Linked DNA regions of Homo sapiens: all the other regions are linked to region 1. The links come from fine-mapping of genetic effects on gene expression. A gene starts in region 1. Each other region holds a variant in brackets. All regions are shown on one strand. Distances are from middle to middle. Region 1 holds the start of HMGN3-AS1 (HMGN3 antisense RNA 1). Region 2 has its middle 52 kb from the start of MIR10524. Region 3 overlaps LOC100506851 (a long non-coding RNA gene). Region 4 overlaps LOC100506851 (a long non-coding RNA gene).

Evidence for each region. PIP is the estimated chance that this variant, and not a neighbour inherited with it, causes the effect. A credible set is the group of variants that fine-mapping cannot tell apart.
Region 2: its variant is the best candidate, but not a certain one, in a credible set for the expression of HMGN3-AS1 in spleen (GTEx, PIP 0.55).
Region 3: its variant is the best candidate, but not a certain one, in a credible set for the expression of HMGN3-AS1 in lymphoblastoid cells (TwinsUK, PIP 0.71).
Region 4: its variant is the best candidate, but not a certain one, in a credible set for the expression of HMGN3-AS1 in macrophages after interferon gamma (Alasoo 2018, PIP 0.56).

The regions. Positions count from the first base shown.
Region 1 is chr6:79,230,122-79,238,035 of GRCh38, reverse strand. HMGN3-AS1 (HMGN3 antisense RNA 1) reads right to left here and starts at 4,362. Exons shown (of 2, transcript NR_040671.1): 1 at 4,109-4,362; 2 at 1,236-3,974. HMGN3 (high mobility group nucleosomal binding domain 3) reads left to right here and starts at 3,354. Exons shown (of 7, transcript NM_001201363.2): 1 at 3,354-3,490. The coding sequence starts at 3,476. RefSeq lists enhancers at 3,236-4,025, 4,026-4,816, 7,834-7,914 and a silencer at 4,029-4,078.
Region 2 is chr6:78,482,866-78,490,779 of GRCh38, reverse strand. No RefSeq gene overlaps it. Among named protein-coding and RNA genes, the nearest start is that of MIR10524, 52 kb to the left of the region's middle. The variant G/A (reference allele first, on the strand shown) is at 3,983.
Region 3 is chr6:79,414,538-79,422,451 of GRCh38, reverse strand. LOC100506851 (a long non-coding RNA gene) reads right to left here. Exons shown (of 7, transcript XR_001744215.3): 3 at 2,642-2,846; 4 at 1,815-1,912; 5 at 249-1,414. Among named protein-coding and RNA genes, the nearest start is that of LCAL1, 110 kb to the right of the region's middle. The variant C/T (reference allele first, on the strand shown) is at 3,175.
Region 4 is chr6:79,423,619-79,431,532 of GRCh38, reverse strand. The region is part of intron 5 of LOC100506851 (a long non-coding RNA gene); the gene reads right to left. Among named protein-coding and RNA genes, the nearest start is that of LCA5, 110 kb to the left of the region's middle. The variant TG/G (reference allele first, on the strand shown) is at 5,734.

The DNA of each region.
Region 1 (7,914 bases):
AAAGAGGGACAGTTCAAGAAGGAGGTGATCTGCAAGTCATTCTTTCCCTTGAAAACTTCCTCTCAAGCCTGGTGTGGTGGCTTGCACCTATATAACTACTCAGGAGGCTGAGGCAGGAGGATCTCTTCAGCCCAGCAGTCTGACGTGCAGTGAGCTATGATTGTGCCACTGCATGCCAGCCTGGGCAACAGAATGAGATCTTACCTCTAAAAAAAAAATTTTAATATTAAGCATTTTTTTTTCGGAATGTCAAAGATCCACAACATTCATTAGCAGTGGCATTCAATTTTTTTGACCAAGACCATACTAAAAATATATTTCATGTCACAATCCAACATACACACATACATATCTGTGTTGTGTATGTGTTTATATGAGCACATATGGAAAATAGAAACAATTATCTTATGAAACATTACTTACCTTTACCATATATACTCTGCTATTTTCTATGCTTGGCCCTTTCTTTGCTTTTCTTAGCCTTCCCTTCTCCCTTCTCCCTCTCTCTCTCTCTCTCTCTGTGTGTGTGTTTGCGTGTGTGTGTCTGTCAATGTCTCTGTCTCTTTCTTTTCCTTAATGATAGTCATGACACTATAAATGGTTTTGCCCTGCTGATTGAAAAATGTGAAGTAGGTGTACAGTTCCAACAGTTTTGAGTAGGACAAAAGAGGAGAGGAGCTGGAATTGGAAAACAAGTTTGTTCACTATTTTTTTTCTTTCTGTCTCAGTCAGTAACTCTGTTAATTTATCCAGGTCTACCTTAGCTAAGATAGTATATACATCCTACTTTTACTGTCTTAGAGGCTGATATTCCAAAGTAGTAGAAATGCTCAGTGGAATATATTGATAAACAAATGAGTCTGTACTTCTTACCAGCTTGACCTCCTCACTGTCTTCTATGTGACACCCTCATTTCTGCCCAGATGTCTTTATCTCTTAACCTAGAATTCTAGCTACCTGCTAAATCATTCTCTTTGCCTACTCTTCTTACCTCCAGGGCCACCAGTAGAGGTTTGCACTGACTTTCCCAGATCTTGAAGGCTACTAAAGGTACAAGGGAGAACACTTCATTTCCTAGAGTAGTGCTCAGCCAGGTGCAATCTACATCAAAGGAAAGATAAGCAATGCTGTTGTTTTTCAACCGAAGCTGTTATTTTCATAACTTGTAAATGAACTAAAGATTCCAAGAACTCGAGGTCCTCACAATCAGCTTTCTTCATCCAACAAGCAAGCTTCAATTTCATCGTAGCATTTTTATTGTGTGCAGTAAAAACATTCACAATTTTGTTTGCTGTTGATGATCTGAGTGTTTGGTTTTGAAAAAAAATTAACAAAGAAGCCAATTTTGTGAGTTATTTTTCATCACAGAGGAGAAATATTCACCTTAGCACTACCTTTGTTGTGGCACCTTTCCATCTCCATGAAGAAAAATAGCCATCCAGTCCAGATTGCAAGTGCTACTCAGTATCCTTCTCACACATATCTTACTAAAAATGTTTTCACTGACTTTTTCTTTATTTAACTATCAAGTATTTGGCAAATTAATATCTTGAAAGACATCTTCATTATAAATATTATTTTAATGATAAAATTATTAACTTGTAAATTTTTATCTAGCTCTAAGCAATTGGTTTTTATCTTAATTCGTTTCAGTATACTATTGTCATTCACTGAATGCCCAAGAACAGGGAATCTATCAAAAATGATTAAGATCATGTCAAAAGGACACAAGCACTAATTTGAAAGGGTATGCATTGGCTAAAGATGTGGTAATAGGAGCATTAAAAAGGTAATAATAATGATAGCAATACACTGATGCACACCAAATATGTAAAAATCCATGAGTTCATAAAGATGTTCCAAAAAAGAAAGTAATCAACCACCTCTGGAGAGTACTAGATCAATTAATGTATTCTGAAAATTACTAAAGAAAAAGTGAAATATTAAACTTCATTGCTTTTTTAATACATATTTAATACATGATATTTTTAATACATATTTGCAGCCTCTGTGTTACCAAAGTGGATTTGGCCATATTTGTAATGTAAGGCTTCAACACATTTTCCTATGATGTGAGCTTTGCCTGCTAAGATGATTCTGAAACTAACTTTGCCCAATTTTGCTTTTTCTATAATTTCATATGAATGCAATCATTCAGTGTGGTCTTTTGTATTTGACTTCTTTCGTACAGCACTTTGTTTTTGATATTCATCCATGTAGGAAAATTTTTTATTGTTTTTTATTGCTGAATAGTATTCCACTGCATGTGCTCATCACAATTTGCTTACCCATTCACTAGCGCTTTTCCTGCATCTGCTGAAAGGATTGTTTTTCCCCCTTTATTCTATTAATCCTGCCAATTACATTGATTGATTCTCAGATATTAAAAAAGCAGCTTTGCATTCCCAAGATAAGCCCCACAGGTCATGATGTATTGTCCCTTTAAATGTTGTTGAGTTTCATTTACTAAAATTTTGTTCACGACTTTTGTGTCTATGTTTATGAGTGATATTGGTCTGTAACTCTCTTTTGAAGTCTTTCACTGGTTTTGGTATCAGAGTAAATCTGGTCTCATAAAATGAATTCAGAAATATTTTTGCAATGCTCATTTTATGCCTTGCAGAACTTTGAGAAATATTACGCATAAAGTGTAACATGACGGGTGTCATTCAAATATATGTCTCAAATATAAAATAATCAGTTTTTGCCTTGTTCTTTCTTTTCCTAATTTCCGTAACAAACATGTCCTATTCGTCTTCACATCTAGTTTGAAGTTAGCTGAATTAGTGAGTGATTTATAATCACAGATTTCAGAAAATTAGAGCTAAGTGATTTTAGGGACTGTTGTCACTATATATCTAGGGGGGGAAACTGAGGCCTTTAGAAGTTGCCACGCTCTTCCAGTACAGAGTACCTTCCCACGCTTTACAGATTCCCACCATGTAACATTCATTAAAAGCCTTTATGGGTAGGAAATGAATAAGGTACCTGCTGTGTATATATTTACATTATAAAGTTTACGTATTCATTCTTACTCTTTTTCCTTCCTATGAAGACACACACTGTTCTTATTCTTACAATCTCAAAGAGAGAGCAGCGAAACAATGAAACTTCAGGATTGTGTGGCCTGGAGGCTACTAGTTGAACTGGGCATGCTCAGTCGCCAGGCAGATTTTTTTCGGTGAAGTGGAAACTACAACAGCGCGTACCGCGCGCGGAGGTGGGCGTGCCCTCGTGGAATTTAGAACGTTGCCTCAGCCAATGGGGCCTCGCGGCCGGCTGGCGGGGCTCCTCATTGGAGCAGCAGGGAGGCGAGCAGAGGGCCCCCAGAGGGAGCCGCGGAGGTGCAGGTCGAAGAGGCCGGGCTACGTCGTGCCCTGCGCGTGAGCAGCTGCAGAGGCAGAGGCAGCATCCAGCGGCGGCGCCAGCAGTTCCAGTCCGTTGCTTTACTTTTTGCTTCACCGACATAGTCATTATGCCGAAGAGAAAGGTAAGTCTTACCAAAAAAAGATTTCAAAAGCCTTCAAATTCTGCTTACAGTAAATGCTGGCATTGCAATGGCTCGCGCAGAACGCGCGCGGTAGTAACCCGGGGATTGGGAATCTTTGCTCCTCCACGCTTGTTTTTAGATGCCTGTTGCAGACGTTCCTCTCTCTGTCCCCCCTACCCACTCCGTCCTCATCGATCTCTTAATGTTACTTTCTCTCCAGTGACGCGGTTTCCCTTCTTTTTGAACTCATTCTCGCTGGAATGTTTTCCACCCCCAACAACAAGAAGCAAAAGCGGCTTTCCATTCCGAAAGGGAGTTTCCTCTTTGCAAACTGCCAGGTTGCGAATTAGTGTGAAGGGAAAACAGCGAGAGGAGAAAAACAAGTACAAGCGTAAGGAGAGGGAAGAAAATAAATCAGGCAAATGTTGGGATTATTCCCATGCGGCTGTACTCGCGGGCTGGGTGCGCTGCGGTGGCTCCTAGGCTAAGGGAAAGAGAAAGCCATGTTTAAAATAGCGCTCACCCTCCTGCTCGCCTCCGCTGCAGACCCGTATGTACCAACTCCAGTGTCAATCAGGGCTGGGGCCGGCGAGGCGGGGCCTGGCGGCCTGGACCTACCCGCAGTTCGGGGCGGGAGCGGTGGAGTTGGCAGCGTGGAAGACGGGACGGCGCCGGGGCGTCCAATATGGCTCGTCCAAGGTCAGGGGGCCACCAGGTCCTCCCCAGCGACTGGAACCCACACTCGGTTGGGGAAGGCGGGGTCCGCGCGCTATCCGCCCCTCTGCGCGTCTAGCGAACTGGAGTCATTTTTGTCTTGTCTTCCGCCCCTTGCGGACTGTCCTCTTCTGCGCAGGCCCCGGACACCAACTACTACATTCAGGGACACAAATCTCCCTCGGGGTGGGGCTTCGACTTGTCCCGGGGAGGGAAGGGAAAGGTTTCCTCCTCCCTGAGAAATCAGTGAGGATTTCTCAGCTGGTTCCTAAGCAAGTGCTTTGCACCCTCCCACCGCCAGCCTCAGTGTTTCCAACAGTGTCAACGAGTGTGGGTATTAAATTTGAAGCAAAATTACACCTAATGTCTTGCTTTATCAAAGACCATGGACTAATTTGTGTGTGAGAGTGACTGCATTATTTTAAAATACTGAAGTTTTAAAAATTCAAAAGCTTTCCCCTTCTTATATGTTATTACTAAAAATTGGGTAGAAACTTGTCTCCTACCCCACTTTTTAAAAATAATTGAAAGTGTTTAAAAGTCTTAGAGTTTGTTGTGCACATACTGTGTCCCTCACGCTGTGCAGAATTTGACTTGCATTATCTCATTTAATCCTGAAAACAGCTTGAGCGGTGTTACCCCCATTCAGCTGGGACTTAAAGACATAAATTGTCCTGCATCTCACCAACCAATAACTACTAGTAAAGATTTAATCAGATGCTATAGATGCCAAAGTCTTATTCTCACCCATTTCGTACTCACTTACGAAAGGGTGGGTCAAGAGGAATTAAGGAAATCCAAAGGTACTCCCAGTTTAAGAAGACAGATGGCATATTAAGAGCACTAATACTTGAGATTTATTATTTAAACTTAATTTTATGAAGGTATTTTCTAGCCCTGTTTTACTAGAATTAGGATATTAAGTGATGTCACCATTTTCAGCATTTTGACTGAGGGTTAATGATGGATTGGAAATTCTAGTAGAGACAAAGGAACTAATCATCAAGATACGGGTTACAGAGTAAGTGAGCTGGAGGCCATCTTTTTTTCCTGGGAATTATAACCATTGTTTACATAAACAGTAGGTTAGGTGTGCACACTTTATGTATAATGGACCCTGACGATGGAACCCTTCCTTGCTGTTTATTCAAGGGCCAGAGCTGCTGAAACCATTATTCTTACTTCCCCTGTCTGCCTCTCTCAAGGAGACGGAAGGAAAAAAAAAAAAAACTAAAATAACAGTAAAATTACAGCTACAGTTTTATTTCCCTGGAAGGCAGGGAACCCCCATGCATAAGCTAGCCAATGGTCCTGAGACTAGGGGCAAAACTGTGTACAGGCACCTGTGTGTCATTCCTGAGGACATCAGAGTGTTCTCCGGTGATGGAAAACCTCTCCTTGATTAATAGGAAGGCTTTCCATTTATACCTGAAGCCTAACGACCTCAGTTGGTACCTGGGCAGGAACAACCTCAGATTAAACACGGCGATCATGGCCATCCATCTATCAGTCAAGTCTTAGAGCAGCCTCATGGAATCCTGAAGTTCACTGGAACTTATGTGAGGAACCACTGTCATTAGGTAAAGCCTGCTTAGATACAAAAAAGAACTGGAGACAATCCATGCATAGCTCTTCAAGATCTTCAAAGCTGGGGTAACTGCCAAAGCATTTACATACTACACAATATTTTTCTTGACTAAAGAATTGTCTGCTCTACAATATAATAAGCTTTTAAAATGTCCCCCTAGTACTTTTTTGCCTTCTTAGCCCCCTGTATCAACCTTTCCTAGAAATCAAGAAATGTTATTTAATGAACATCTGAGTAAGTTGTTCTGCAGAGCAAGAAGTGGTACAGATAAAGTCAATGAAAACATCTGGAATCCTAGCCCTGTTGTAATGCTGTAGGGACATACAGTTTTTGCCCTCTTGGAACTTGTGTTTAATTCAATGAGGTGATAAGACTAGCAGCACAAAACAGTTGAATAACATTAAAACTGTGTATGTGTTCCAGAATGTGTAGTTATAGATCCCACAAGCAGTAGGACAGATAAGGAAAGTTAACTTTAGGCTGGTCTTAAAAGTGTGGGTAGGACTCAAATATACAAAGAAGTCAGAGTCATTTTTTGTTACCAGGTATTCAAGTGTGTCTCCTGATTGTATCTTAACATGACCAGGCCTCAGTTTTGCAACTTCAGGGCTATAATATCATCTGAATTAATATTAAAATGTTCTGATGACATTTCTTTGTAAGTTTTATGTGTATCTTTGTGTGTGATAGTCATAACTACATTAAGCCAAGTGGTTTTTTATAAATGCCATAGTATTTTGTGAAGTAATACAGCACTTAGTGAAGAGTTCTTCAGTGCATATTATCTCTAAGTTTGTGAGATGTAAATAAAAGTGAGTTTCCTGTATTTTTTAGATAATGGATGGTGGGTGAGTGGAATTACAGGGGAAATGATAACATTCATGGACTCAGTGGTGAGACAATGAGTGATTGAGTTCTAGACTGTTCTGGCCAGACATCCACAAATGCCCGCAGTGGTCATGTTGTTATGTGATGATTTGATGTTCTACGAAGAGACATGAGCCAGCGAGGCCTAGAGTCACAGTCCTGGCATGATTAGCGACAGGAAACACATTTTTACCTCTTTCTTTTTATTAATATTTTCCAGTTCCTTATCACTAGAACTATTTTAAATGTCTAGTGTATCACATCAGAAATTCTCTAATGAGGCAATTTTCCATGAATGTGGCATGTAAGCAGTCATGTCTCTTGACACTTAAAGGTTTAAGGAAGGAAAGCCCATCTGCCTCTAGCTTTGAAACTCAAAATTAGGTTTTTATCTGTTTCCTTAAAATGGAAGGCCCAGTAGCAGTAGCATTGGGCTTATTAGCACAGGGGATGCTTAACTAACCATGATCAAGGTTTGTGATAGTTAATTTTGAAAAGAATATTACTTGTCATAACACCAAAAACAGAAACTGTAAATGAAAACACAGATAAATTTGGCTACATGAAAATGAATATTTCAATATGGGAAAAAAAACTGTTAACAAAATTTTTAAATTTATGAAAAACTGGGAAAAAATATTTGTACCACATATCACTGAAAAAGGTTTGCTGTTTTAAAAAGATAGCATCTCACATTTCCTTATGGAAAAGATGTATATCTTTATAGGAAAATAATGAAGACTCAAGTAGACAGAAATGTTTGGTTTTACTAGAAATCAAAGAAATGTACAATATTAAGAATAATGAGATGTAATTTTTAAAATAACCAATCTGGTTTAAAAAAAGATTAAAAACCTACTGGCTAGTGCTGAGGGATATAGACACTCAGCACTCTCAGTTATGAGAGTATAATTTCCTTTAAAACATTTATTGAGTATAATCTACTTACTATAAAGTCCATTCATCCATTCGAAGTATACAATTCAGTGATTTTTAGTAAAGTATAGAGTTGCGCAACCATTGTCATAATCCAGTTTTGTAACATTTCCATCATTCCACAAAGGTCCCTCATGGAGTTTATAGCCAATCCCCACTCCCAGCCTAGCCCTAGGCACTAATCTACTTTTGCTGTATCTAGATTTGCCTTTTCTGGAAATTTTATTTAAAAGAAATGATACAATATGTAGTCTTTTGTGACTGATTTTTTCACTCAGCATGATGTTTTTGAGATCAGTTTGTGTTGTAGCATATATCA
Region 2 (7,914 bases), 750 kb after region 1:
AGGGACAAACATGACTCCAGGGGCAGGTGGTGGCAGTTCTCAAGAGAAGGGGCTTGGGCAGGATCATCCTCAAATCATAATAACATAAAAAGATTTTAACAATAGAAACTTTTCACTATTGTCACAGAAATATTAGGTTGCAAAAACTTAGATTTACATAAATCTAGTTTTATGTAATGACGAAGTTTATAAACATTGGCATAGCGAAATGTTTACTGGCTTGTAATAGCTATTTAAAGGAATTTTAAATCGTTATTTAAATCAATAGTTATTTAAAGGAATTATATAGCTAAGTTCTTTTAAAAACATCCAATCAATCAATATGCCTTTGTGAAGCATCTCTTTAAAAGTATACCGTTTTACTTATGTGGTTTTTAATGGTAGATTGGTATAACAGCAAGAATTTATTTACTTTGCATTATTAGGATAGTACTTTATAGAACTTTATGGTTCCTTCAGCCGTGGGGTTCTGTCTAATCATGCATTTATTATTTATTATTTTTATTATTTAGTAGAGATGAGGTCTCACTATGGTGCCCAGGGTGGTCTCAAACTCCTGGCCTCAGCAAGCCTCTGCCTCATCCTCCCAAAGTGCTGGAATTAGAGGTATGAGCCACCATGTCCAGCCTGGTCATGCATTTTTGATCACTGTTCCTTCCTTTAGTTTGTATCTGATTGTAAACAATCTATATACAGAAGTATTGGCTTAATTCCAAAATAAGCATAGGAAAGAGCTTGAAGTATTAGAAAAATAGAAGGAAGGAGAATGTGACTGGAGTCTAGTGAATCACGGCTGAACATCATGCATGTATAAACACCAAGCAACAATCAGGATAGATACCTAGGAAGTTCTTTATGAATGGCTGTGATTTTTGTTTCCAGTATGTGAGTTTGTTATTTATAGAAGACCACACTGAGGACCACTGCAACCTGAAAAACTCACTCTCAAGGAGTTCCATGACTTATGAAGTTAGTAAGGCTTTCTTGGATTGGAGGAAAATGTGCATAAGGTACAGTTAAGCCCCTAGTTCTCCTTCCCTTCTGGAGATCAAGTGACTCCCCCTCAAGCAGGAGGCCAGCCATTAATATATTCAGGAGAAACTGAACCTGAGAAGCTCTGGACTCCTTTGTACCAGACCTGGTAATGTAAACATGTCAGCAGGGTGGGGAAGTGCAAATGGTTAAAAAAGAAAAAGTAAAAGAAACAGACAATACAGGAAGATAAAGAAGACAAAAGCAATTGGTGTAATTGAAATCCTAAGAATAACAAGAAATATTGCTTCCAATAAAAACAAAAACCAAAAGGAAAAACTAAGATATTTATGTAAAGAAACAATCAGAAAAAGTTCCTGGAGATTAATATAAAATCATGTAGAAGATCAACTAGATATTGAGAAAATTCCTGGGGAAAATAGAATCAAAATATAAATAAATGGAAAATAGAAAAAAAAAGAGATAAGAAAATTATCAATCCAGTATTCCAACATTAAGCTAATAAATATTAAATAAAGAGAGAACAGAGAAAACAGTTTAGGAAATTGTTCAAGAAATCGGGCACAAAAAAAAATTCCATAACTAAAGTACAGGCCTTCAGGTTAAAAGAACCCAGTAAGAGTTCAGCAAGAAAAGATTCACATTTTTTGTGCTGTTTCGTAACACCTGGAAAAAGCAGAGGATCCAAAACTTCCCAGAGAGAAAAACAAACATTTAACTACAAAGACTCTGGAATCAGAATGGCATTAAAATTCTCAAAAGCAACACTGAAGTTAGAATATTATGGAGAGACACCTTAACATTAAAAAGAAATGTAATTTTCAACTTAGCATTACATAGCCCACCAAACTATTATTCAAGTATTTGTATAGAGTAAATATATTTTTTGGGATGTGAAAAGTCATTTGTGATTCTTGTGCTCTTTTAAATGAAATTACTGTGGGATAAGCTTTGGCAAAGTAAGAGGATAAACAGGATAAGTGACATTATGGAACCCAGGGAAAGGAGATCCAATTCCTAAAAGGAAGTCCTCCCTTTCTCCCCTCTCCCCTCTCCTTACCTTCTTTTCTTCTTTTTTCCCCTCCATTTTTCCTTACCTCCTTTTCTTCTTCCTATTTTAAGGTTGAAAGTGGTATAAGACTTTAAATCCTATAACCCGGAATCCGTGGGATTTTACAGCTCTTAATACTATCGCATTTCCTTTTATCAAAAGGAAGGATGCCTTTGGCATCCTATTTTTAATGAGTCCCATGGTTATTGGCAGAGTGGTGGTGAGATGATCCCAAGAATAGTGTGGCTAGGAGAGAGATGCAGTGGAAGAACTCATGTGTTGATGAAGAATATTAGGAAAGCAAGTTGAAAACTTCAGGAAGAAGAATGAAAATCAGAACATATTTTCCCCTGGACAGATACCAACGGGATTAAAACTTGGTGCGGAAGTTTGAAGTCTTAGCCTGTGAAACATCCACAAAGCTTTCAGTCTTTTTTATGCTTCCATTAGGATTTTCACATAATCTCTTGAGGATCATGAGCTCAAATTAACTACAAATATACTGAGAAGCAATTGAGGAAATTTTTTTATAACAAGTTCACTTAGTTATCAAAAAATAATTTTAGAAGGGAAAGGACAATTATTTTGCTATGTATTGCCACTCAAAATCTGTGGTACAAATTTTTTATAGAAACGCATTGTCCTATAGTTCATATTGAATGAAATAATAAAGTAAATCAGCTCTTTAGTCCACTCTTACATAGCTATTACGTTTTTATCAGTAAGGTGTCAACTGAGCAAACATTGTTCAGATGAAACCATTGATTCCATTTCACTATATTATTCATACCTCTACTTTTATGAAAGGGACAAAATGGGAGAAATTGGTTGGTACCACAAGAAATGGAAAGCAAGGGGTCTGTGGGCTGAGTAACTGTTCTCTGTATGATCACATTATGATACATCATATTACCTATCTCTATTGGTAAATTGAGTATATGAGAATTAAGTGTTAATGACATGTTTCTTAAATACATTTTAAAAGCTGGACATTTGAGAGACAATAATGTCTGTGTCGGACTTTGCCTGTGCAACCCCAGCTCCAGTGAAGGGGCAGAGCTGTGTTTGTGACTCAGACTCCTTGGCTTCAGCTGAGTAAGTTGGATGAGTTCTAAGGTATTTTTATTTTCTTCCTTTCTCATCTGCCCTGATATGCTTGCTTCCATTTCCTGTCATTCCTCTCTTTGTTTTTTCTAAAGGGAAGCAAATAGAGTATGTTCAAACCTCTATTTGATCTGTATACCATGTTTACTGCTCAGCTAAAGTTTGCCTTCACTTAAGGCTACAGGGAAATTACACTTGCTAGGTTGTGGATTTTGAGCCAAATTATACAGTTTGTGCCATTCCTTCAAGAAACAAAGCTTGAGCGGAGGTGTATATGAGTAACTATTTCTCAGTCAACAGCTAAGCAGTTACCTGGAGTGCTCTAAAAAGTCATGCTTCTTTTCCTTGTTCAGGGAAAAGGCTATTAAAGAGATTAATAAACAATGGTAAATGTTATTCTGTTTAGAAGATTTATGCAATTATATACCATTTTTCTTCTCTTTCCACCTAGCTGAGGTAGCAGTTTTTGTACTTACTTTGAGTCTAAGTATGTGATACACAAGAAGATATTGCCTCGTAGAATGAATAATGAGAATTTGGTTGAAGGACATTTATGAAAACAGACACAAAGTTAAAACTGAGTTAATCATTTTAAGAAAATCCTGGGTTTTTTTTGTTTTTTTTTTTTTGCTACTAAGTTGTGAGAGGGAGTTTCATCTATTTTATATTTTATAGACTGGGTTTGTAGGTGGCTCATTCTGCATAATATGAGACATGGCATGAGGCTGGCCGTTGTGTACCTACTTGTGAATGAAAAGATTGACCCATTTAGATGTTAGCCTATGTACAATCCCAAGGATTTTTACCTTTGACTGAAGATAGTTTAGATCTGTT[G/A]TTTTTCTCTGCTGTGTGGTCTCTGGAAAATCATTTACTCTCTCTCTTAGTTTCTTTACATGTAAAATAAGATTATTAACATCTATTAGGTTGGTGCAAAAGTAATTGCAGGTCTTGCCATTGAAAATAATGGCAAAAACTGGATTACTTTTGCTCCAACCTAATACTTCATTGAGTAGGAAATACCTGCAAAATTCTTTAAAATGTATCTATGTCATAGTAAGTGTTCAACCAATGATATTTATTTTAGTCATCGCTATCATCATGTTTTGTATTACAGCCATTTGAACTGATGGCATCTGTGTTTCCCAGTAGACGTGGAGCTTCTTGAGAGTAGAGAGTATGTCTTTTTGTTGGTTTTTTTCCCTACCATAGGCCATAACACAAAGACATGAGCCAAACACTTTACAAAAGTTTAATTGAAATAATAAAAACAAGGATCTCAAACAACAGCTAATCTAAAATCTATATGTATTTTTAGTTCATGATGCTGACAACTTGGATGACTAGCAAAACCAAGTCACATTCTGTTAGCAGAAGCTGAGAGGTGGTGGGATAGTAGTCCTGGAACATGCTTGGTTTCAAGGAGAAAACATCTAGATTAGGAATTCATGTTTGTTAAATACCTCCAATGCCCTGCACTCCAAACATTTATAGATTTTAATGTTTGAAAGTTTTAGCTTAATTTGGATTAAGAACTATGCTACAAAGATATTACAAAGTAACTTTCCATTAAGGTGTGGGATTTTGGGTGTTTGTATGCTTTCTTTTGACACATTCAAAATGGCACAAAGCTAAACATAAATCTGTTTTGGAATGAGTCAGGAAACAAACAAATAGTGAAATGAGCTTGAGTTACACTCAAAGGTAAGCATGCTGCTGGCAATTATCTGGGCCATATATGCCTATTTCAACAACAAGTGTGATAGTAATTATAAAATGCCACTAAAATTCTATATTGCTTAAGATGGAGACAAAACTGCATCTCTTTCTCTCTCTGCTGTGTTGATCTTATATCAGTACATTTTTTCTTCTTTTTTATCTTTTATTAAAAAAGATTCTACTCTCCTTTGGAGATATCTGTTAGGAATGGGAACACATTTTTCTAAAATAGAGATTTATAAAATTAGATATCAAATGTACTTTTCATGGCAATAACCTGGATTGCATTAATTGTGTATTCTAATGTCTCTCTTCCTAAATGTCACTAAAGCAGCATAATCTATGAAAATTTATAACAAATAAAAACCTATTTCTTGATGTATGTGCTCCTGGAATGTTTTTCTTCACATTTTATCCCAATTATAAAATGTGTAGATATTTGGGTTGCACATGGCCTGTATTGTTTTTAAAATAGTTTAAGCCTTATTCACAAGGTAGTTGGTAATCCAAGTATGTTTTCAATATTTTTCCATTTTTTGTTACAATTAATGATACTTAGCTTATCAAGAGTGTTGTTTTATAATTAGCTTATCAAGAGTGTTGTTTTATAATTGCCCAGTCAGATATCAATGAAAGAGATTAATAATAGTGAATTATAAATGGAAATCAGTCTCTTAGTATGAATTAATAAGTTGTAAGAAATTGATTTTTCATTTCTTTTTCTACTTCATTAAACACATTAATGCCTTAAAAGCTACTCCATGTTTCTTAAAATCTGGTTGAATAATTTGTCAAGACAGGTCACATTTAAAAAATCCCTTGGGTTCTTTACTAGTCTTGTTTTAATATAACTTTGGACAAACATCATTTTAAATGCTGACTCTTTTGTCTTTCTGTATTTAAGTGCTGGCTTCATAATTCAATGTCCTATGAGCAACAGACAGCTCAATTCATGTCTGGCTAATGTTTTTATTTCTTGTTTTTATTGAAAGTGGTACATGGGGGCACATTAAGTGGCACATGAAGTTCCCCTGAGATCTTGTAAGTAGGAGGAATGAGATTATTCTCTGAGAATTAAATTATAAAATCAATGGATAGTAGATCATAACAGAGATATGTGACCACTTGGAAAAAAATGGATTTACTGGCAGGGCCAGAGCAAGACTTGACTGAATAAATAAATAAACCTAAAGGAAAATTAACAGTCAAAGGAGACACTATTCAGCAATAAAGTCAGAAACAATTGACCCAGAAGAACAAACATTAGCTGTGTCCAGTCTAAATACAGAAAGAACATATTGGCCAATGGTTTTATTGTGGACATGGTGCTTTGGACCATCATCTGACTAATGTAACTTACTTCTGTTGTGATTTTATGCTTCTTGAGGACCCTTCCCATTAAAGTTTGACTTTCCTTAATGATCTGCCTTTGGGAGAGAAGAGGTGGTTATGCCGATGTCAGTGTTTAAGGAGGTATGACAACCATATTTCTATTTATAAATTTACAAGTTGGCATTATGATTTTATACATCATTCTCTGTCTATTAGCTGAGTGAAATCCACCCATGAAAGATGGATTTGACTCTCAAATTGCTGACTTGTAGGTCCTTAAGCTTATGTGTTTTATGGCCAGAACCAATTGCTTGTTGATTTTATCACCATAATGCAACTCTGAAACCTCAGAGATAGATTTACATGCAGATAGATTTACATGCAGAGACAGAGAGCAAGAGAGAGAGAGAGAAAAACTGCATTTTCTTCTTTGTCTGTCTTGAAAAACACTACTCAAAGCTTGATCAAAACTCTTTTTTATTATGCTTTAGCTGTATAGTCCATTATTTAAGTGATAGATTAGTGGTTTATTCAATGATCTATTAATGAGGTGGGCTATAACAGAGTACTGTAATAGCTTTCATCTTTACCTAAAAGTACTTTATGTATGTGTATGGAGAGGCAATCAATAAAAATAAGCAGCCTTCATACATAAAAGCTGTTAGAATGACACCACTTACTTTGGCTTAGTATTTTAGAGTTTATAAGGAAATTTCACATTAATTCTCTCTTGATCCTTTCAGTAACTCTGTGAAGCATGCAGGAGAAGTATTATTATCTTCAGTTTGCAGATTAGGAAATTGTGGCTCAGAGAATTTAAGAGATTAGCCAAGATCTCATGACTAAGAAATGACAGCCAGCACAAACAGCTGTGTCTTCAAACACTCATCCAGTGCCCTTCCAATTAGGTTACTCTGCCTTGCATATAGAATTAAAGAAATTTTTTTAAAAGGTTCCGAAAGCTAATGATTGACTATAATTTATTTTTACAAAATACTCCCATTTTGCGTATTTAAACTATGATAAGATGGAGAAGATGACTTACAGTTAACCCATTCATGACATTTTTTTTTATCATGCACCTACCTTGTGTCAGATGCTGAACTGGAGGTACAATGGGGTACAAGGCAGATAGGGTCTCGTAAAACATTTTAGTGTGGAAGACACTCATTATGTATATAATCAAACAAATGACCATGTGTGATTGTGATAACAGATGGGGAGCTTGAGAGACCTTCCTCAAGGGTGACATTTAAGCTGAGGCCCTTTGGATAGTAAGTCGGCCAGATACATGGCAGGGGTGTCTCTTTATTAAGAGCCATGTCTACAAAACTGGATCACCTTAAACAAAAACAGAGAAATTGATTTCTTACCACAACTTTTTGTCCGTATCCTAGTTCTGGCATGAGAGAGATGAAGGCTGGGAGGAAAAAGAAAAGAGATGCTACTTTAAATGAGCTAATCCATGATAATTAATTACTATGGCTTTTTGGTTCTCATTATCATAATTTAGCAGAAGCTTTGAATAAAAAAAGTCCCACAAGATTCAGGGTTGTCTAATAGGATATTGTGTCTCATAAAAACGATTAGTTAGAGGTCCAAACTTAATTGTCTTAATAAGCCACTTAATCATTCAGGACAGACAAGAGAAGCCACAAAGGACCACAGTTCTAAGGCTTTTAGTTTTAAGTTTTCAAAAGCTCATTAGTTAAGCACTA
Region 3 (7,914 bases), 180 kb before region 1:
TACTATCCTAAGAGATGAATCTAATTAAATTTTAGGGCATACTCAAGTGCTAGAAATAAACAAAAGTAAGACAAGAGCTCACGTATAATAACAATAGTAATCCCCACAGCAGTCATTTAAATTAATGCTTGTAATCAAGCAACGTAAACACCATAATGCAAAAGCAGAACTAAAATCAACATTCCACCCTATAAAACAGAGGGTGAGGGAGAGTGCTGGTAATATTGACAAAGATACTTTTACTTTACCCATGTAAACATCAGACTGTCTTGTTCTCCCTAGGCTTGCTTTTCATTCTTTGGTATGACAGTTCTGATTCTTCAGCCTCCCCATGAAGAAAAGAAAAATTCTCTTGAAGCTGAACTAAATTCATCAGCAAATGAAATTATATTCATTTGATAAAATGCTAAATGGAAAAGGCAGGTTTATTTTAAGCCGTCAACAGGCTGTTTTAGTTAATCATGCACAGTGCAGAAGACAGGAGTTTGGTTGCTAAGAAAATGTTTGGCATGTTTCCACGAGATCCATGTGACGTGAAATGCATCTGTTCATTTCAATAGTGAAATAGAAAAAAATAAAATAAACAGTGCAGGGTATATTTGGTGAGTCACTGTGGAACACAGGGCCAAAATAACTTCTGTGTTGTCAGTTTATTCTATACAACCTTATTGTTATGATGTTAGCCTTTTCTTATAATTCAAAAAAAATTTATTTTAATAGTGATGTTTTGTTAGCAAATTAATACAAATTCATTGTAGATAAATCAGAAAATACAAAATAAGAAAATTAAAATCTGCTGTAACACACACCCACACAAATACCAATATCTATATTGGTATGTGCATAGTAGGGGCTTAATATTTATTTGCTAAATGAATTAATATATATTTTACTTACAAATATGAGATCATACTGTAATACTTTTATAACATGCTTTAGAAATTAAAAGACATCATAAACATTTTTACTGTGTTATTAAGTATTCTTCTTTAGCATAATTGTAATAGTTTTCATTATTATGGGACAAGTAAGTTATCTGGAACTCCTGCAAAATTTCTTCAGTAGCCAGGAACTGAATGCGAGCACCTCCCAGTAAGACTGATACTGTGGTGCTGATATGATGAAATCTGAACATGTTCAACATTTTTTGCTGGGATGTCATACATATTCTCTGATTACTGAGCTAGTAAATGGAATCTCAGCTGTCCTGATTGTGTGTAATTCTGTCATTTCTACCACCAGATAGAGACCATCACTGCTTACATAGATAACGTGCCATTCACATCCAGGTGTACTAATGTGAGAGAGAATGGCCAAAGATAGCAATGTGCTTGGCACACCCTTGCACGCCATCGTGATCCTCAGAGTGAAGTAAGAATGGCTATTGTCTTCCACAACATCTTCAAGGTTGCTGCTGTGAACAAAGAGGCCAAACAGAAGAGTATTAATTCACAATGTGGAAGAATATATTGATTAATGAAGCTCTTAATTACGTAGTCCAAAAGGCTGAGAAGTTCCACACCCACAAAAAAAGGAGAAGCAGAGAAATGTAGTTGGTATCTCCTAAGAACTCACTTAAATCTACAGTCTTCACTAAGGACAAGGTGGAAAATAAGAAAATTTAAGGCCAAAACAATGACGGAGGGCAAACACAAGATTCTTAAAGGTTCAATAAAATCATTAGCTAGCTAAACAAGAACCAGCCTGCTGAGAAGAAGAATCTGAGTATCAGCAGAAAAGCTGGAGAAGTCTGCAAGATCATCATCACAAGCTGTTACCAAGGAGCTGAAGACATATCAAGAGAAATGGCTTACCAGGGGAAGAGCTCCTCTGTCACAAGGTGCCTCATCTGAAGCCACTATTAAAGCGGGTGTCCATGCTGACCAGAAACAAAGCACATTTCACAGACCTACTGCAAAGTTTAAATATGTGACTAAGTCAGTTCAGTGGCAGTTTAAAACATATTTAAACATAAATTAACCTGTAGACAAATAGATCAGAAAATGTGTAATAGCTCAAACACAACAGAAGTTTATTTCTTGCTCACTTAACAGTTGGAGGCAGGTGTTTCCTGGTTGGTGGACGTTTCTTCTCCACTTAGCAACTCAGGGACACAAACTGATTTTGCCTTCTCTTTGTCAGGGCTTCAAATTCATCATCTGCCTCCAGTCAGTGAAAGAAAAATGAGAGCTTGGAGGTGGAACACCTCCTTCTTTAAAGCTCTGTCCCAGAAATTGTATTCATTACTAGAACTCAGTCATGTGATCTAACTGCAAGAAGGCTGGGATATGTAGTCCAATTGTGTACCCAAGAACAGAAAATGGTTTGTTAGGGAGGGGAGAAACAGCAACCATTATCTGAGGTTGCTTAAATTTGGTCATATTTTGAATACTTTAGTACATGCTGGCAGTGCTGTAAATAAGCAAAAATGAATCCGGCACCCACATTCTGATTGCCACCAACTTCGTGTAATTTTTTAAAGGTATATAAAATTCATGTGTCAATGCATAAAGATCCATTTTAAATTGATACCATAAAAAACAAGTGGAATTGCTGGGTCAAATATTCATACAGAATTCTCTGGCTTTTCATTAAGTCGTGTCTAATTGACCCTGAGAAATTGTTCAATTTACATTCTTACCTGCAGTAGGTGAGAGTAGCTGCCTTCTGTGCTATCATCGACATCATTGTTAACATTGCATACAGCATTCACATTTTAAAGTTTTTTAAGAGACACATTATGATATGGTAATTGAGAGAACAGACCCTAAATCCATACTGCCTGGATCCGAATTCCACCTTGTCTTTTTTCTTCCTGAGACCTTTCTGTGTCTCAGTTTTCTTATCTGCAAAATAGGGTAATAATAGTACCTATTTCATTAGGTAATATTCATCTTTGTGAGGATTAAATGCGTTAATATGTAAAATGTCTTGAACAGCACCTGATGTATAATGTCTAATGTCTTATGTTTTGCTGTTATCATTTTTAATCTGTCATATATGTTATAAGCATCTGATGCATAATGTCTTATGTTTTTGCTATGATCATTTTTAATCTGTCTTATATGTTACAAACATTTTCTTCTGCATATTGCTTGTCTTTTGTCTTTATTTATAAAGCACTGCTTTCCATACAGACTTTAAAATGCTTTTATGGAGTAAACAATATCTAGA[C/T]TTTCCTTTATAGCTTTTGTACTTCCAATTGTATCTTATAAAGGTCTATCTCTCTCTTTTTTTTTAAGTCATTCATGTCACAGATATGCTTTTTAAATTTTTTCTGATTTTCTTAGTCTGTTGGTATTGCTATAAAGGAATTTGGGAGGCTGGGTAATTTATAACAAAAAGAGGTTTATTTGGCTCATGGTTCTGGAGGCTGTACAAGAAGCAGGGCACCAGCATCCGCTTCTGGTGAGGGCCTCAAGGAACTTCTACTCATGGTGAAAGACAGACAGGAGCAGGCATCACATGGCAAGTGAAAGGAAGAGCTGGGGGAGAGAAAGGTCCCAGGCTCTTTTAAACAATCAATTCTTGTGTGAACTGATCGAGTGAGAACTCACTCACTACCACTAGGATGGCATCAAACCATTCATGAGGTATCTGCCCCACGACCCAAACACTTCCCACTAGGCCTCACATCCAACATTGGGGATCAAATTTCAACATTAGATTTGGAGGAGACAAATATCCACACTATTTCACTTGTTTTCAATTATAACTGAGAGCACAGTTTTTGTTGATTGTTTTGAGAAAGTCCTATCATTATTTTTCCTTAAAGTTTCTACATTAGGGGTTTGCTTAAAAAAACCCTTGCCACCCACTTACAGTTTAATTAATTTACCAACAATTGATATAAGTAGAGATATAACATTGCTTTCTAAATTGTTTTCTAATTATCCCATCATCATTTATTATTCTGTGCTCTGATTAAAGGGGCTCACTGAAGGTTGGTACCTCCCTCATTAACTTGACGGAAGCCACATTCCTTGTTTTGTTTTAAAGTCAGTTAAGAGATAGTTCTGTATGTACAGGCAACTCTCAACTACCAGCCCATAGATAACCCACTTTGGAGATCAATGAAATAAAAAACCAGACTGAAAAAAATCTTCTCAGCCTGGGCTCTTCACACTGCTTTCTACTGGGCTCTGCTCAGAAATGCCAGCTAACTTTAACTTTACATATGTCAGCTCGGAAGAACGATTTTTTAAAGGTATATAAATGTTTTACAGAGCTAATTACAAGTGAGTTTGGAAATTTCTGCCATCTAGCTATCTGTGCATTATGCTCTTCAATGATTACAAGTAATGGAAAGCTGAATGTTGTTTTTGAAAAAATGAAAACCACATGTCATTCCCGGAATCAGACACTGCTATGATTTTATAGAATAGAAATCAGAAGACAGAAGGGACTCAAGGAAATTTAGCAGAAACAAGTCACCCAAAGTAGACATAGATTTTTGACTCTGAAATGTAGAATTAGTCAATCAACAGCTCATAAAACTTTTTCTATAAGACCCCTCCTTTTCATGGAGGGCTCAAGTATTCATGAGTATTCTATGAAAAAGGAGTTCAAAGAATCTCAGATGTCATCACAGCTTTTCTTTAATCCAAAATATCTTAACAGAGGTATGGACCTTGGACTTCGAAACCTAGTCTTGGCTTGGCATGGGGGCTCACGCCTATAATCCCAGCACTTTGGGAGGCCGAGGCAGGTGGATCACTTGAGGCCAGGAGTTCAAGGCCAGACTGGCCAACATGGCAAAACCTCATCTCTACTAAAAATACAAAAATTAGCTAGGCATGGTGGCATGCCTGTAATCCCAGCTACTCAGGAAGCTGAGGCATGAGAATTGCTTGAACCCGGAAGGGGGATGTTGCAGTGAGACAAGACTTTGCCACTGCACTCCAGCCTGGGTGACAGAGCAAGAATGTGCCTCAAAAAAACAAAACAAAACCCAAAAAACAAAAAATCTGGTCTTAAAATAATTATCACTCAGTTATGGTCTACATCAATGCTTCTCAAACTATCTAAGGTGAAGAACCAGGGTTTTTTCCCATCCGAAAGAGAATAGTTCTGTGAAATATAATATAAATTGCTAGAAAGGTGAAATGAAAATATAAACAAATATAAATAGAAGCCCATTTATTTATTATTAGATTTAGCCAGTATAAAATTACTATGTCAAATTGCTGTAACAGTTTGTAAATCTAACTTTTAATTTCTGCTTTTATTTCATTGACAACCTAGTAACAGTTAGCAGGCTGATATGGATCCATGTGTCACACTTTGAGCAGCACCGTTCCATGCCATTTCTGGCCCCAAGCCAATGCATTTTTCAAAGCTAAAAGCTCCTATGACATTAGAGAATGGTGAAGAGAGAACGAATTTAACTGTTGTATATGTAACTAGAACAAATGTTACAACTTCCTTATTCCTGTGATCTGGTTATAGAGTTTCCAAAACATGTCTTTTGACCTGATATTTGGTTCTGAATTGATAAAATTATGATACACTTAGAATCCCTCACTCTGTACGTAATGTCTAAATCCTAAAATGCTGCTTGTATAGCATATTCCCTTTTCCAACTGTAATTTATTCAATATTTGTTTTCTATGCCTAATAACTTTTTAAAAAAATATTCAATGCCCATGAATTTAGTGCCATGTGGAATGGTACATAAAAGGAAACTTTACATTCTGGTTTTACTCCAGGTAAGAATTTTCCAGATTCCCTTTGTTCTATAGTTTCCTAAATGAGGAGCTCTTGGCCTCTTAGGCACTGGCTCAGCCTTTCTCTTAAACACTGAAAAGACTCCTTGGACCGAAATAAGAGCATTCATGGAGATCATTTTACTGACTTCCTTTCCTCTACCCTTACTCCTGCCCTTAAGCTTTCAGCATCTTTTGTTTTGCTTCTGATATATACCGTTCAGTATGATTAGACTGGGGAGGATACTAATAACCAGTTATGTTATCAAACTGTAGGGAACTACATTTCTTGACTTTCCTTGAAAAATATGGACTTAATCTTCCTGAGTAAAGAAGCATCCATTGTTATGTAGTTTATTTTATGCTATGACAATGGCATTTTACTGTTTAGACTTCAAATAGAAATTTTCTTCAGCAGTATTGCTTAATGTAACAAAATATTGGCCTTTAGAATATCTTCAAACATTTGTAGAGATGGAAAAAAATTAAACCATTTATTCACCTTAGGTTATAGTTCTTTCAACCACCTTTGATTAAAGCATGTTTAGAAAAAGTCAGTTTATGGTTAATATAGTAGGTAAAAGAATTAAGCAAAATTTTAGTGTTAAGTGTTCAGTAAAATGTCATTGCACACTGTTGATTTTATCACAATCTATCTTAGCTCATTGACCTTACTGACAGGTCTATCTTAGCATTAACCTTGTAGCTGATCTTGGTTTTTTGTTAATTGCCATCCTCTTTCACTCCTTAAATTTGTTATATTGTTATTTTAAAAAAGAAAAAGTCTGCTAATGTAAAGGTTCACATTTACCCAATAGATACCACTCTGAAAGCATTTATATGCTAATCAAAATATATGCTATGCATGGTTATACATATTAATTAACAACAACTATAAACAGATATTTTCTAAGCCCTACCCTAGATAAGTTTTAATTACTCACCAGAAGGATAAATTCCATTAATAGTCTTAAGAGTTTCTCTGACCGGGCGCGGTGGCTCACCCCTGTAATCCCATCACTTTGGGTGGCCTAGGCAGGTGGATCACATGAGGTCAGGAGTTCGAGACCAGCCTGGCCAACATGGTGAAACCGTGTCTCTACTAAAAGTTCAAGAATAGCCAGGTGCAGTGGCGCATGCCTGTAATCCCAGCTACTCGGGAGGCTGAGGCAGGAGAATCACTCGAGCCTGGGAGGCGGAGGTTGCAGCGAGCCGAGATTGTGCCATTGCACTCTAGCGTGGGCGACAAGAGTGAAACTCTGTCTAAAAAAAAAAAGAGTCTCTCTTGGTCTGCTTCAGAGAAAAGGTTGTAACACCTGGAAGAAAGAAAAGCTTTTCCCTAGGATGGGGAGAGAGGATGAGAAGACCATGGTGGAGTAAACCACACATGCCTGGAGCTATTAATTAGTAAAACTTGGCTCCAATGTCAACAATGTTATGACCTAAAAGGCTTCAGGCAAATGATAGAGTTTATGTCCAGTCCCAAGGCACCCTCCTGTTGTCCAGGACCTGTTCTACCACCTCCATGAAGTATCCCATCTCTTCCAGCCTCCTTCCTCCTCTGGAACCTTATTCCTTTCAATATCCTGGACACATGGCTGCACAGAAATCAAGCCTAGGGAGCATCACCATATTCTTTTACCTTGTTCATGAAACAGTGAGAACACCTCTAAAGCATTTCTAACCCATCCACATAACTTCAATACCTGGAATTTCACAAATGAAAACCTACTTCTCACATTCTTTTCACTAATTATCAAAACCTCTTGTGTTCGAGATAAAAACCAAGGCAACTATAGCTGCCTCTGAAATTTAGCGTTTTGATGAAATGCTACCAAAAACCATTGCTGGAGTATATATTTTCAATTCGAATAACTACCTGCCCTAGGGTCTGGATTAAAATGAAATAGAATAAGTATTTACACATAAATTGTTTGTTGAAGTGTTTTAAAGTAAATTACAGACCACATAGCACATTCCCTTTAAAAAGTCAAGCTTTGTGAAACAGGATTACATTTAGGATGTTCTCTTGCTCATTTCCTATTCATTCTTAACCCACAGCTTTCCAGCTCCCATCCCAACTATCACCTTGAAGGCTCCTGACAAGGCCCTTTATAACTTAGATGCTAAATCCAGTGTCAAGGTCCCAGCACAGTTCCTGAGATATACTTTTAAAGTATTAATGTTCTTTTCTGTAATTTTAGGCAAA
Region 4 (7,914 bases), 190 kb before region 1:
TCCAGCTGTTACTACTTTTAAATGCTGTTATCCATTGCAAGTCAGTGTGACACCAAATGTATCTTCCACGTTCGTTCATCATTTCTGAGTTTGGCCCAGCCACTGGGTTTTTTTCCCCTGTTGTTCAGGAGGGTTGCAAATGGCAAAAGCAATCAATCTATGAAGCAAATCAGTGTGAACAGCTATTGCGGGGAGAGCTAACCCTGCAGCTATCTGCTATTTTTTTTTTGAAATAGAAGCTGAGCTTGTCTTTGGATCTAATGACTGGAATACCCATGGACTAAAGGGACTGTCTCCCTTCAGCTTTTAGAAAATTCTCATACTCTGGGCCAGCTTAGCCGATAGTTTCCAAGCTGCAGGAACAGCTTGAGGCTGAGGGCGGTGGTCCTGCTCCATCAGTCGTGGGAACCAGGTGGCTCCCGGCATCCTCGGCTCTCTCACCTCCACGCTGCTGCTGCCGCATTGATCCTCGACTAGCGCTCTGACTCCTCAACACTCTACCACCTACCAGCGATATCTCTGAGAATGGTGCAAAGTGGAATTTATTTGTGCCCTTGGTGTGTGTAACACAGCTCATCATGCTTTTAAAGATCTCCTCCTGGTTTCTGCTAACAGCCTTTGCTTGCTTCCTGCAGTTCTGTTCATCACACAGCTAAATAAACCTGCTTGACGTTGCCATCTCTCAGGAGTCCAACCAGAAAACACACTGAAATCATATACTTAGGTGAGATGACATCAAGGAACAATGAGATAAAACAACTCAATAACTAGGAAAAAAATTTTGAATGCACAAATATTTTCTTGTCAAACTTTAAAAAGAGAAAGAAAACAAAAATATTTTTAGAAATTTGAACATACCCACAGTGGTAAAATATGTCCTGCTCCCACATTGCATATTTTCCTGGGTATAACATTCCTATTTTAAAATCATAGCAACAGATTCAAGAAACAAATGTCTTTGAAAATTCCATTTCATGGAAGTGTCACTGTATGCATTTAAACTTTTTTCCTACTGAAAATTATTGCAAACAGCATGAAAAACGTCAACACAGGAAACAGAATAAAAGTAATGGATGATCTTAAAAAAACAGAGGGATAAAAATGTCCGTGAAATACTATGCTCAAATGACTAATGTTAATATTTAGGTTAAATTATTCCCTGTAGGCAAGAAAATAAGATGCCCACAGAGTAATACATAAAATAATAGTAGCAGGGAAAATAAAGTTAGAAAAGTCAGTAATATATCCAGATCATTTTAGAAAGCTGACAGAGAGAATATCCAACAATAAAATAAAATTTGTTCATATTGCAAAAGAACAGAAAATTTCAGATTATTGTTGATTTTTCCACTATACCAAAAACATTATTAGATGTTTTATGTTGCTTTTGGCCTGTAATATCCAGATTATCTGTTCTATTTCCTCTATCACTTTGCAGATGTCTTACTTTTAATTCTGTCACTCTCTCCAATGTATATACTCATTCACTTATTTTTAGATTTCTACATATAATTAAACAGTATTCATTCATTTTCCTAAATACAGCCTTTTCTTTGGAATCTTTACCATTAAAAAGTCTAGATGTTGAATCCTACTTTCCTGTTTTCCCGTCGACATTTGCTTTCCTAGATTCCAAAATAGCAAGTATCTCAGATGTACCTCACCATTACTCCATTTTAATTGAAGTCTTCCTGTTAGAATTATGTTCAGTACCCTGGGAGTTACAGTACAATGAAGAAAGTCACAATTAAATAAACAAAATAAAAAATAAACTGGAGGGTAATATGTAGATATTTGTCTGCAGGAAGTGAAGTCCAAGCTCCCTGTTAAAGAACAGGAAGGATTTAAGTGTAGAGAAAAGGGGAGGCTGTTTCTATGTACCAGGCTGTCACTGCTTATAGTTGCTTACAGCCAATTCCCATATTAATCTCCTTATATCTTTGTATGTATATCCTAATAGTCCTGTTTCTCTGGAGAACCCTAACTAATACAGAGAGTGAGCTGTTTATCATTATCAGAAGGGCCTTACAGTGACATAGCCTGGCACATAGAAGGGGTGTTATGTATACCACTTAGCCGCAGAGGGGAAACCTAGACACTGGAGGGATGCCTGGCAGAGAGAGGGATAGAAACAGTTTTTCTTTGCTTATGATCGACGATCATAAAAGCCATACTGCTGACAAAGTCCAGCGCCAGCTCTAGAAGCTGTTGTATCCAACCTGCCCTCTTTAGTTCCACTGGGAGAAAGCATGGTCATTTACTCACTAAATATACCCCAAACCACACCAGAAGAAATAGGACCCTGAGGTCAGGGCCCATGATGAGCCACTCCAGGGGAGCCCTGAGCATGATTACAGTGTTTGGTAATGAAATGTTCCACACTACTCTAGATGTTACATTGCATATTGACTACCCAACTCTCAACACACAGAGAGCCCTTCTGGAACTCATCAGCATCTCCATCTACCATCACTGAGTCTTTTTCATTCTAATTAAGGGTTTCCAATTCTTAATTGCCTAAATCTCTCTGAGGGAGTCTCAATACACAAATCACAGATTGATTTGTTTGTAGTGGGACAAAATTACTGTTTTCCCCATAGTTTTAAATTCTCCTCTAAAGATCTATAAGAACCTGTGATTGGGGTCATTCTTTATATAAAGTAGTAGTGTATTACAGGAGGGAAGATTCTGAACAACCCAATCCATCTGTAGACTCACCATAGCACAGGATACCAAGGTTTACAACCAGGCTCCAAGAGTGGAATAAAGAGAGGAATGAAGATTAGAGAAAAGCCTTTGATTTTCTACTCAATATTCGAAGAAGTGAGGGTGAACATTCACTCTTCCTTTAAAATCAAGCCCAGAATCCTTCGTATTTTTGTCAGTGGCCATAGAGTATATTAACATCCTGGAAAGTCAGTTGTTCCAAGGGCACTTTCTAGATCCTCTTGGCCAGAAAACTGTCTTCCTTAAACCCAGAACCACGGCTTCCACTGCTTAATCAATAATAAATGATTGCCTCCATTCTGGCAGAGCTAGATGTCTGTAGAACTGATTGTCATGAAGAAAAACCTTTATCATTTTTTCTCCAATTTTTCCAGCTATCCAAGGACATTTACATTCTCAGTTACGAGTAGCAAGGCATGGGGCTATTATTTTAAATTCTGGGCATCGTTCTAGAAATACAGGAATTAGGAATAATCTTCTGTGGAAGGATGTCTAAGTATTGCAGGGGTTATTTGGACATCAGTGACAGCCTGGTGCATACTTCCAGTTGAAATAGTTAAGAAATCATATACTAGCTTCCACTGAGTTGATCTAGCTAGGGCCTCATTTTCATATCCTACCATTTTGAGAGGTAGGAGTTCTTTAGAAAAAGATTGGTTCTAAGTGTCAGAAATGACAACTCATGTCAATCTGTGTGCTAACTTCCATCAGAATACCTCTTGTTTTAGTATTAGGTATGGTTGAGTTGCACACAATTGTCATATGACTCAGTCATCCTAATGATTTTTCATTCTCTCTCTTTTAATGGTCAACTGATTAAAATAAGATGAACACAGAGCCTCCCAGCAATGAGTATCTCTGGGTGCACTCAGCTCCCTGGCTTCTGCTTTGGCTTATCATCTAACAATGCCTCTGACTCAGACTGTCTCCCACCAAGGCTGTATTTTGGTTGCCTGTTTCTACCGTGTGATCAAGACATTGGATGTGCCCAGATCCCAAGGGCCTTTCGCTGCCCTAGACACTCCTATCTAATCAGTATGAAAAATGTCCAATGTAGTAAATGCCACTTTAATTATAAGCTTGCTTCAACTGGATTAGAATCAAAATAAGCATGCTTAAGACAAAAATTAGGTCTGAGAAAGCAAAATTAGCAAAAGAGCTTCAGGGACAGGAATCCATTTCTATTTCAAGATTAAGTGATTTTCTTCTGTAATTCTCATTTTAATATTCTCTTTTCCACCATAAACCTACACCATCATCCAATGCCATGCATTTTTACTCAAGTAATTGTATTCTTCTTACTTGCCTTTCTGGTATGACTTCAGGTATACTGCCTTTCTGCACTTCAGGGCACCCCTAGTTTTGGATGCAGATGCTAAGCGTTAAAGCTATAACAGTAGAGGTTAGTAAGCAGTGGCAACAGTGGCTTTAGAGTTAGACTTGGTTTAAAATTCTGGCTCCAGCACTTGTTAGCAGTGTAATCTTTCACAGCATATTTACCCCTCTAAGCTTCAATTTCCTAGCTATAGAATAGTAAGAATAATAGTTATTTTGCAGTGTGATTTTAAAGACAAATCAACCAATGTTGATAATGCCTTTGGCAAGAGGCCTGGCGAATGCAGTATACCACCTGACAAATGCTACTTGTTGATATGAGTAGGAAGATGCTCACCAGATCCATGTGTAAATCTGGAATCAGGAAGACTCAAGCTCTGATGCCATCTCTAGCACTTAAGAGTTGTGAGGCTCTGGGCAAGTTGCTTAACCTCTCTTTGTTTTGCTGGCTCTTTTGCAAAATGGAGATAAAAACAGCTGTCTCACAGGTGTCATTTCTGGGTGCTGTGTTGATTAATACAAGCTTCTTCTAAAAGTTAAGGCTCAGCGGTATTTGTTTATAATGAATAAAGTGACCACCACCCGCCTTTGAAATACCCTGCTAATGAGAAAGAAAACATGATCATAATCTAAAGCTTTCCAGCGGCAGGTATTCTTGTTCTGTCCTCATGGCCATAAATAACACCTTCTATTCAATTTGTCCAAATTGTTCCCTACCAGATTTCCGACTACAGGCCAGGATCTCTGGCACTAAAACAGGCAGAGTAATGAACAAAGTGTTCTCTGCTTTTTATGCATGCTACAGATTTGGAGTACAGTAGGAGGGTAACCAGTGAAGCTGAGCCTAGGTCAAGGATGATAAGAGACTCCAAGAAACCACAGTGGTCTATTGTTGAAAATGTTGAAGAACCAGATACCTCAGTTGTTCTAAAAATAGGGGTCCTTTTTCTAAGCAGATATAAAAATACCGTCTAGAAACCAGCTATATCATAACAAGATATATAGAAGACAGAGTGTCATGGTTAATTTTACGTGTCAATTTGACTGACACATTAAGGGATGCCCAGATAGCCGGTAAAACATTTCTGGGTGTGTCTGTGAGGGTGTTTCTGAAAGAGAATAGCATTTGAATCAGTGGACTGAGGTAAAGAAGAGCTGCCCTCGTCAACGTGGTCAGCATCATCTAATCTGTTGAAGACCTAAACAGCACAAAAATGCAGAGGAAGAGCGAATTCTCTCTCTCCCTCTCTCTCTCTATCTCTCTCTCTGTCTGTCTCTCTCTCTCTCCATGAGCTGGGACACCTGTCTTCTGCTCTGAAATACTGGAGTTCCTGGCCTTCTGACTCTGGGACTTATACCAGCAGCTCCTATTGTTTCTCAGGCCTTTGGACCCAACCTGAATTACAGTCTGAATTTGGAGTTCTCCATCTTGCAGATAGCATATGATGGGACTTCTTTGCTTTCATAATCATGTGAGCCAGTTCCCATATTAATCTCCTTATATATGTATATCCTACCGGTCCTGTTTCTCTCGAGAACCCTAACTAATACAGAGAGTGAGATGTTTATCATTAGCAAAAGGGCCTTGTGACAGGTATACTATTGTCCCTAATTATTTGCTGCTACTCTCTGTAAGAAGAGTATACTTCTCCACCCCATTGATGGCAGGTT[TG/G]GTCACATGACTTGATTTGGCAAGTGAAATATGAGCAGTATGCCACTTGCAAACAGAATCTTTGAGAGCCACTGGTAATTCTTTGCTCTTAGACATTTCTTCAAAACATCTTCTCTAATGATTTCCTTATGCAGACCAGAAGTCCCTGTTGGACTTAACTGGACTCTTCTTGAAAAGGTTGCAAAGATCAGCTAGTAGTATGTTTAGCATTTCACTTTACAATGTGGGAGCACGTCGTTCTCAACTTTGGTTTTCAGTCAACACAAACTTACACACATACACACACACACACACACACACCCCTCACATATATTTATATTTATATATTCTAGACTGTTGAGTAAATTCTCTGTCTTTTGTTATTTTCTGTGAGATCATGTAACTTCTTAATGCAGTTGGAAAATGTGGTGCAAATGATACTGTTGTAAATGAAAGAACTTCATCAACCTCTAATTAGAAGTTGAATAACTATGTGAACAGCATAATAAAATAGCCCATTTTAGTAATCTACAACAGAAATTAGTTCAGGGAAGACTTTATTGAAAGGATAAGACTAACAAGCCCTTATTAAATGCATTTTAAAAATATTTCCTTAACTTCTGGACCAACACTGTCCAATAGAACTTCCCGCAATGATGGAAGGATTCTACGTCTGTGCTATCTGATATGGTAGCTACTAGCCATATGTGGAGTACTTGAAATGTGGCTAGTGCAGCTCTGAAGATGAATTTTAAATTAATTTACATTTAATTAATTTACATTTAAATTTATATAGCCCCACATATGGATAGTAACAACTGAATTAGTGCACCCTAGAGCCTGCATTGAAAGAGTATCTTTTCCTAATAACTTAAGTATTCTTTATGTTACTATATTTGGAACTAAGAAGCTTATATGTATGTATATCTATAAGCTTATATCCATATACATATAGGCTTCTTAATTGTATGCACACACATACACATATACACACACACACCCATGCATACCCATGTCTATATCTTTCTAGTTATCTATTTATGCAAGTACCAGACAACTTTGCCCTTTTTTGTTTAGGCAACCATTGTATACCATTGCAGAGCTGAGAAATTATTGCCTGTTTTGTTCCAGACTTCCAGGGAGTACGGGTACTCCCACTGGAGATCTAATCTAGCTTTAGGGAGAAAATCTTACAGAAAAGTATTTCCTCAAGATGAAATTTGCAAAAATATAGTACCACATTTTAGAATCATAAGTCAAAGATGTTCTTATTGAATCCATCCATTGATCTAAAAAGAACTATTCCCAAATTATCCTGACAATTTCCAATACTATATTAACCAATCTCTATACTTTAGTTCCTCTTCTTTTTACCAGAAATTAGTTATTCAAATGGCCAGATTTTAGTTGCCCCAGTCCTTAAATTGTAAATGAACTATATTTTTATTTCACTATAGAATTAAAGGAATTTATGTACCTCATTTTTAAGGAACACCACTGCAAAGGTATAATGTTCTGAAATCTGCTGTAATTATAAGAACACGGGATTTGGAAAATAATTTGGGTTGTGAAGACGTAATTATTTGGGAAGCCTGGAAAGCTGGAGGTAGGTCTACTATCAGGGACATTTAGACACTGATGGTCTTTACTATCTGTGGATATGACCTTCCTGGTGGACTTTCTCAGGGAGCAGAGACCAGGGAAATCCTTGTTAGTCAGGCCATATTGGTCCTGCCTTGGAGAGATTTCTTTTTCCTTGGCTAATTAACTAAGACATTTAATCTATTCTTAATGTGGGTGTGGTGTGTTCTTTTTCACTTTATTATAGAGCATCAGAAAGACCTGATTCTACTTCCTAGTGTCAGTGTGAGAATTAATTCATCTATAGGATTTAGTATAGCAACTAATATCATGCCATCAATAAATAACTGCTGATTTTTAAATTGAGTTTTAAAAGTAAAATGTAATTTTAACTAAAGAATAAAAATGCTTCTAAGAAGCATACGATCTTTTGGAATAAAGTAAAGGGCTATTCACTAGAAAAAGACAAAGCTGTACCAAGCATACTGACAACAAAGCCATCCCCAAATGTAAGATTTTAGTTTTCTATTAAAAAATAGAATATAATGGAATTAGTTCAAGATCAAGCTCCTTTCTATGGATAAGATAGGCACTAACAGCATTGACCTTTATTAATATGA